Homo sapiens: one gene and its partner. The protein of the gene in region 2 binds, or shares a complex with, the protein of the main gene of each other region. Each region holds a gene or a part of one and is shown on either strand. Other genes may lie near its edges.

Region 1 (3,756 bases), on a different chromosome or scaffold from region 2:
ACTGTGAACATGCTAGAACCCCAGTAATGTCCTACAGATGACAAGCCTCTGTTATTTATGTTTTCCAAGATTACAGACTGTTTTTAAAGTGCTGAACAAGATACATATGTGAATGCATATTTTACATAATTACATTTCTTAATTTATAGATAATGAAACAAAAGCCAAGAGCACGCATCTACAAGATGTTTGGACTGAAAAAATAATTATTGTAATTATGTTTGGAATCAAGATAAACTGCTTGAAAGAATGAAAAGGTTAAAACTGAAATGTCTTGAGGGAGAAAAACCAACAGAACCTAAAAAGCAGAAACAAGAGAGTATGATTAGGAACCTGAAAGAAATCAATTATAAAATCAAACGGAAATTAAAGTGAATAGCTTTGGACTAGCTTCTTTCTCTGAAACAGGAAGAAATGAGGTAGGATAATAGAGGCTATACATATGTTTGAAAAGAGAAAGAAAATAAAGACAGGCCTGCAATTCTTTGTGGAGGAAGATTGGAAATGAGGGCATGGTAGAAATGGAGAAGAAAGACTGATCAGAGTGGGGACATTTTAGAATGGCTAAATGAGACTGATAGGCAATAAATACTCAAGGTCCAAGAAAATAAAAACCATAAACTTATACTGGCACCAATCAGCACTAGTATTTAGTTTTCTGAAGTAGTACTCAGCATTCTGGGTTCAAGAACGAGGAGTGGATAGTGAACTTATCTATGGTTAGAACTAGCAGATGACAAGGGAGCTTCTTGCTTAGAAGAAAACTGTGCAGGTGAAGATCATGATGTCAAAAAAGGAAATAATGCTGGGAGACTGAAAAACCTGGAAGAAACGAAAAGAGTTCCAATAAAGGCCACTAAGAAAATGAAAAGCATTGTAGAGAGCCACTGAAAAACCTCCATTTCACAGTCAAATTTGTGTTATAAATAACACTTTGCAAAAATGTTAAGAAACTTGGAAGGGGCCAGATCATAAGAAAGGAGGCAAATACAGAAGCACAAAATAATCCATGCAATAATAGAAAAATACTAAACTAGGGTGATATGGAAAAGAGAATAAACTCGTAAGTAAACTTATTGTTTACAAGTATGCAGTACTGTCATGAACATCTTGAGTATACCTGAAGAGGAACTTTCATTCATTGAGGTAACACTAAGGTATGCTAAGTAAAAATTATGAATTCAGTTTTGGATATTCTCAAGTAAGAGGTATGAATAGGATTTTAAAGTAAATGAAAATACGGATTACAGGCTTCTGGGCTAGAGGTTAAGTATTTGAAAATATTCAGTTTAAAGATACCAGGTAAAAACCAGTAAGAATCAAACTGTCTAGGAAGAAATGTTCAAATTTTAATAAGGAAGGACAAAGGAATAAAAAAGCAAAGAGGATATTATCACGGGAAAAAATGTCTTTCAAGGCAAGTCAAGATTTTTGAGGAATGGTCAACAATGTCAAGCACAAATCAAGAAACTAAAACTAAGCCTCAGAATTGGCAATTAGATTCACCAGCAGAGTGTGTCAGAATCTAAACTATAAAGGGTTAAAGCAGTATTAAAATATGTAGACTGTATTCAAAGTAGTATTCACTTTAAAAAAACAGAGCGGCAAATCTATTTTTTCTCTAAGTTTGATAGCAAAAAAGGTGACAGTTACATATATACATATGTAAAATATATAACAAATCAAACCTAAAGATATATCATTTATAATTTACATAGTGTTATATGTATTGTGCATATTATACATGCACATAAAATACATACCATAATTTTAAGATTTTGAAGCTATTTAAGACATTCAAAAATATTTACTGATTTGGAAGAGAAAGTCAAAGGACAAGAAAAAAGTATGTTTTAAAAAATATGTAAGATCTGCTATGTGCCAGATACTGTTCTGGGTACTGAAGACAGAAAGAAAGATTAAGACACTGTTTTTACCCTACAGGAGCACACTGTGTAGTGGTATTCTTATTTAATACATTGTTATTTTAACTTTTTGAGATTTCAATACAATTAAATGAGTTTAATCCATATAAAGCATTCCTAACAGGGTCAGATACGGAGTAAACATTCACTGTTAGCCACTACTACTATTACTAAAACTGAATTTAAATTTAAAGCTCTGTGTAGGTACTGTTTAAGTCAAGTCATAGTTTTGAGAAGTTTCTTAGAAGATACGGAACGTGAACTGGGACTTGAATGACTCCAATATAATGTCATGTTCTTTTTGTAAAGACCCCATCTATAATATAAAAATGCTGTGAACAAGGAGCATATTTCTTTTTTTGGTAACTAGCAGAGTACAATGCTAGTCAAGTGCAGAATAAACATACACTGAGTAACTATTCTGGTCTTCACCTCGCTTCCAAGGTTAAATTTTTAAAGGTGTTGTTAACATAACTAGATAATGACATCATATTATGTTAATTCATATAATACTTCCATTTGGCTTACATAGACACATAAGATATGGAAGTTATAGTATTCCATATTACACATATTTCAAATGGATATCTGTGCCATAATTACAAAAATTAAACAGACATTGCTATGGTTTGACTGTGTCCCCCTCCAAATCTCCCATGTTGTAATTTAATCCCCAACGCAACAGTGTTGGGAGGTAGGGCCTAATAAGAGGTGATTAGGAAAAGATTACTGTCAGTATCTCAGGAGGAGGTTATCACCAGTGAGCTTGTTATAAAAGAAAGTTCAGTCCTGTCTTGCTCTCTTCTCTTGGCCTTCCTCCATATAATGACACTGCAAGAAGGCCCTCAACAAATGCTGGCCTTGACCTTGGACTTGCCAGCCTCCAGAACTCTAAGAAATAAATTTCGTTTCTTTATAAATTACCCAGTCTGTGGTATTGTTGTAACACAAAATGGACTAAGATAGATGTTTAGTACATTTAATCACCTGATAAAAAGTTTTCCTTATAGACTCTATTCACAAGCCTAGAACATACCATTTTTTCTTCATAGGTAGGATCTGGTTCTTGGATTTCCTTTTGCTTTCCAGGTGACGCATCATCAAATATTTCCTGGTAGAAAGAAATAATTAAATAGAATTGGTCTTCGAAAATAGTAAACATACCATTATAGACCAATTTCTGACCAAAACACATCTTAAATAATACATTCTCACCCCAAACTTCCTAGAAACTTAAACAGCTGTCATCTAAGCTAACAGAAAAACTGATAAAATGATATTAGATACTATGGGGATAACAACGTATTTAACCCATATATATAAACTGTATGGTTGTTGCCAAGATTAGAACACAAGATTATCTTCATCATCCTAAAAGAAAACTACATTTAATACAAGCCAATCTGTTTCTCTTTTTCTGTAATAACCATGAAACCAAACTAAATAGTATAAAATGTGGGGAAAAGTTCCCCTTTTGTCATAAAACTACAGTATCTACTGTGCTACCACACAAATGTCTACAAAGAAATCAGAATTAGTCACCCTGATTTCCACCTTCTGGAATATTACAAAAACTTTATCTCGCAGCCTAAATTGAATACTCTAACTACAGTCTGATTCCTAAACTAGTAATAAATGTTATTCTTGCAAATATATTTATCCTGACATTCATATGTCACAAGCAACAAAAAACAACTTCTACACTGCAAAGTTCTATTCATCCATTAAAAAAAATTGGCAGAAGTAATCTTCATTAATGATGCACAAATCTATGCTAGGCAATATATGCTATAATAAAACTATCTGTGACCAAAAAGTTGTGGGGAGGAGA
Region 2 (3,756 bases):
TACTTCTGGCCTCTACTTTCAACAATGTCAGGCTCATATTATCACTGATGCCTATAAGTATACAATAAATGATAAGTATGTTAATTATGAAACTAAGAATATGCTGCTATTATTCTGATAATCAATTAAACCATGTATATTAAAAGCAGAGATCACCTGATGAAAATGAGTTGATTACAGTAAACAATAAATTTAATTTTTAAGTGCTTTCTCAAGGAAGTTTTGCTAAATTCTAAAATTGAAAACCATAAAATTACCTAACATCAAGAATGTTAAAATGCGCATTACAGAATTAATATTTATTTCTGGGATTGAGCATCTTTTATATTCTTTTATTTCTACCTTTGTTACTTTATTTTCTGCAATAAGCAGAAACATTAAGGTAAAATTCCATAACATAACCTTAAGGTATCCAATTGTGTAAATGTTTGTGATAACTTTAGGCAATATTTTTCTTGCAGAGACTAGAACGACAGGTCCTTTACCTCCCAGGAACCTCCAGTCTAGGGGTCACTGTCACCTACACAAAAATTAAGAAAAAGTGGCTGCTTTGTATAATATGGTACTCTTGAGCTCTCTGCAAAGAAACCACAGGATAACCTAGATTGCTCCAACAACGTACCCTTCTAAAGGCACACTAGGAAACAGCAAAATTAGGTCACTCCAGGAACTTGAAGTTGGTGGATCAAAGACATTTCTCAGAGAAGATTCTCTATAAGAAATCGTGAATGCATACACATATCCTTGCTATGTGAGATACTACCATTAACAACTATTATCAGAACCTTAATCCATGTGGATAAATTCTTTGATAGCACCGTTTGGAGAAAAGGTAACTCTCACTGTCCAAGCTCTTACTACTTGTTACATGATCTCCAGGTCTCAAATGTATTAGAAAAACATAATATCCCTCACAATCTCAGCTCAGAAACCAGACACAGGTAGCAAGGATGTAATCTGTATATCGAATTATTAGTATGAGGACTGAAACAGGTTCTGGATAAATCTATCCAGGAAAGTGAAAAGATGTTAAGTTATTCAAGCAGCCAATAAAAAAAAAAATGCAATTCCCAAAAGTAAACGAGGAGTTTTAAAACCAAAATCCAAAAAGTAGTAATATACAAATGCCTTAGAGTTTTCCTATACTACTCCAAAAATAGTTAAATCTATTAATCAAAATCCAGTGTCAACAGCATTATCTCTTTTTGGAAACAAAATCTGATTAACAAATAAAATAAGGTAAAGTACAATAGAAGGATAGGAAAGCAATCAATGATTAATGTTGTGTTGATTAAACCATTGAGAAATTGTTAAAGAGGAGAAAAAGGAAACTTCTTGTAGCATAGAAAATAGCTCTAGGCCAGACATAGTGGCTCATGCCTGTAATCCCAACACTTTGGGAGGCCAAGGTGAGAGGATCACATGAGCTCAGGAGTTTGTGACCATCTTGGACAATATAGTGAGCCCTTGTCTCTAAGAAAATGTAAAATTTAGCCACACATGGTAGCATACACCTATAGTCCCAGTTACTTGGGTGGCTGAGGTGAGAGGATCACCTGAGCCCAGGAGGTCAAGGTTGCATTGAGCCATGATTGTACCACAACACTCCAGTCTAGGCAACAGAGTAAAACGCTGTCTCCAAAAAAAAAAAAAAAAAAAAAAAAAAGAAAATAGCCTGAGCTCGATACTATCAGATTAAGGAGTAATCATCACAGAATCACATATGAAAAACTGACATAAGAGTTAAGATTCTATATGACAAGAAAAAACAGATTCTCACAGTGTGGTTCAAGGACTTTGGGGTTTCCTGAGACCTTTTTCGGAGTCTCCGAGGTAGAAACTATTTTCATAATAATAGCAACACTATTTATCTGCTCTTTTCACTGTGTTGACATTTGTACTAATTGCAAAAGCAAAGGAAAGCAAAGGTGGGTAAAATTGATGGCACCTTAGTACTAATCAAGGAAGCAACATATATTAGTCACTGTATTCCTCACAACCACACACCAGCAGAAACAAACAAGGCAAATGGTTTCACTTAATAATGTCCTTGATAAAACAATAAATACTGTGTTAACTCTCAAGTACATGTCTTTCTAATATCTGTGACAAAATGGAAGATATACATAAATATGGCTACAACTGAAGTTCAATGGTTTTCTGAAGGAAAAGCATTTGTGTATCTGAGTTGTGAGCTAAACACGCTCCAAGCTCCTTTTTCATAGAACCCCACATTTTTTTTTTTTTTTTGAGACAGTCTCGCTCTGTCGCCCAGGCTGGAGTGCAGCAGCACGATCTCGGCTTACTGCAAGCTTCACCTCCCAGAGAACACCACTTTTTAAAAGAACAAATATGGCTAACTCAGACTTAGGTATTTGATAGAGATGTTTTCAAACATGAACAAGGTGAGCTTGTCACTTCAAGGAAAACTGAGAGCATTTATCGCCAATGATAAACGTTATGATTTCAAGTGGGAACTAGAATTCTGGAAAATTCACATCTACTACTGTGAACTTGATAGTTTACCAAGGCCTAAGTAATTTTTCTGATGAGATGATATTTATATTAATGAGCATGATTTAATGACAGTGTTCAATAAAACGTCAACATTTGGAAGACATAATTCAGGGAACCAATATTTACAAGCGGTAAATGCATGTTACAAAACTATACATACAAGACCCAAGTTAATTAACCTGGTTTCAGACCTACATTAAACATTACAACTAATCTTTAGGAAACTACAACTTATGTAGAGTTTTGGTATTGTATGGTATCAAAAAGAGAATATACACAATTATCTAAAAAGACTTTAAAAATATTCTTTTTATGTGAGGCTCGGTTTTCTTCATATACTTATTATTTTGAGAGAGGATCTCATTCTGTCACCTAGGATGGAATGCAGTGGCATGAAAATAGCTCACTGCAGCACTGACCTCCTGAGTTCAGGCTTCCACCTCAGCCTCCCAAGTGGCTGGGATTACACGAGCGTGCCTCAGCGCCTGGCTAATTTCTTCTTGAGACAGTCTCACTCTGTCACCCAGGCTGGTCTTGAACTCCTGAGCTCAAGTGATCCACCTGCCTCGGCCTCCCAAAGGGCAGGGATTACAGGCATAAGCTACTGCATCAGGCCCTTCATAGATTTTAAACAAAACAATACATTGCAAAAGACTGAATGCGGCCAGGCACGGTAGCTCACGCCTGTAATCCCAGCACTCTGGGAGGCCGAGGCGGTCAGATCACCTGAGGTCAGGAGTTCGAGACCAGCCTGGCCAACATGGCAAAACCCCGTCTCTATTAAAAAGACAAAAATTAGCCAGGTATGGTGGCACACGCCTATAATCCCAGCTACTGTAGAGACTGAGGCAGAAGAATTGCTTGAACCTGGGAGACAGTGGTTGCAGTGAGCAGAGATTGTGCCACTGCACTCTAGCCTGGGCAACAGAGTGAGAATCTGTCTCAAAACAACAGTAACAACAACAGTAACAACAACAACAACACAAAAAGACTGAATGCAGAAGCAAATGGTAATCAAGCTGTTTTCTCTTAAGCCAGACATTAAACAGATGTACAAAAACATAAAATGCCACTCTTTCATTCTTTTGAAAAGTTATTTTTCCTAGAAAATATTATTTTTAACATTTTAAAATAAAAATTTTTCAGTTCTAATGTCAAATACAGTGAAGATCAAAATAACTCATATTAAAAAAAGCTCTTGGGGTCCTCACTAATTTTTTAAGAGGGCAACAGTATCCT

Evidence for each region. Proteins that work in one complex are often made in the same cells at the same time.
Region 1: DEK (region 2) and SMARCA5 share a complex: the UniProt entries of both Homo sapiens proteins name them as parts of the B-WICH complex.

The regions. Positions count from the first base shown.
Region 1 is NC_000004.12:143,516,635-143,520,390, reverse strand, and holds part of SMARCA5 (SWI/SNF-related matrix-associated actin-dependent regulator of chromatin subfamily A member 5), read right to left. Parts: intron 3,037-3,756; coding exon 2,962-3,036; intron 1-2,961. UniProt on the Homo sapiens protein: ATPase that possesses intrinsic ATP-dependent nucleosome-remodeling activity.
Region 2 is NC_000006.12:18,250,870-18,254,625, forward strand, and holds part of DEK (protein DEK), read right to left. Parts: intron 1-3,756. UniProt on the Homo sapiens protein: Involved in chromatin organization.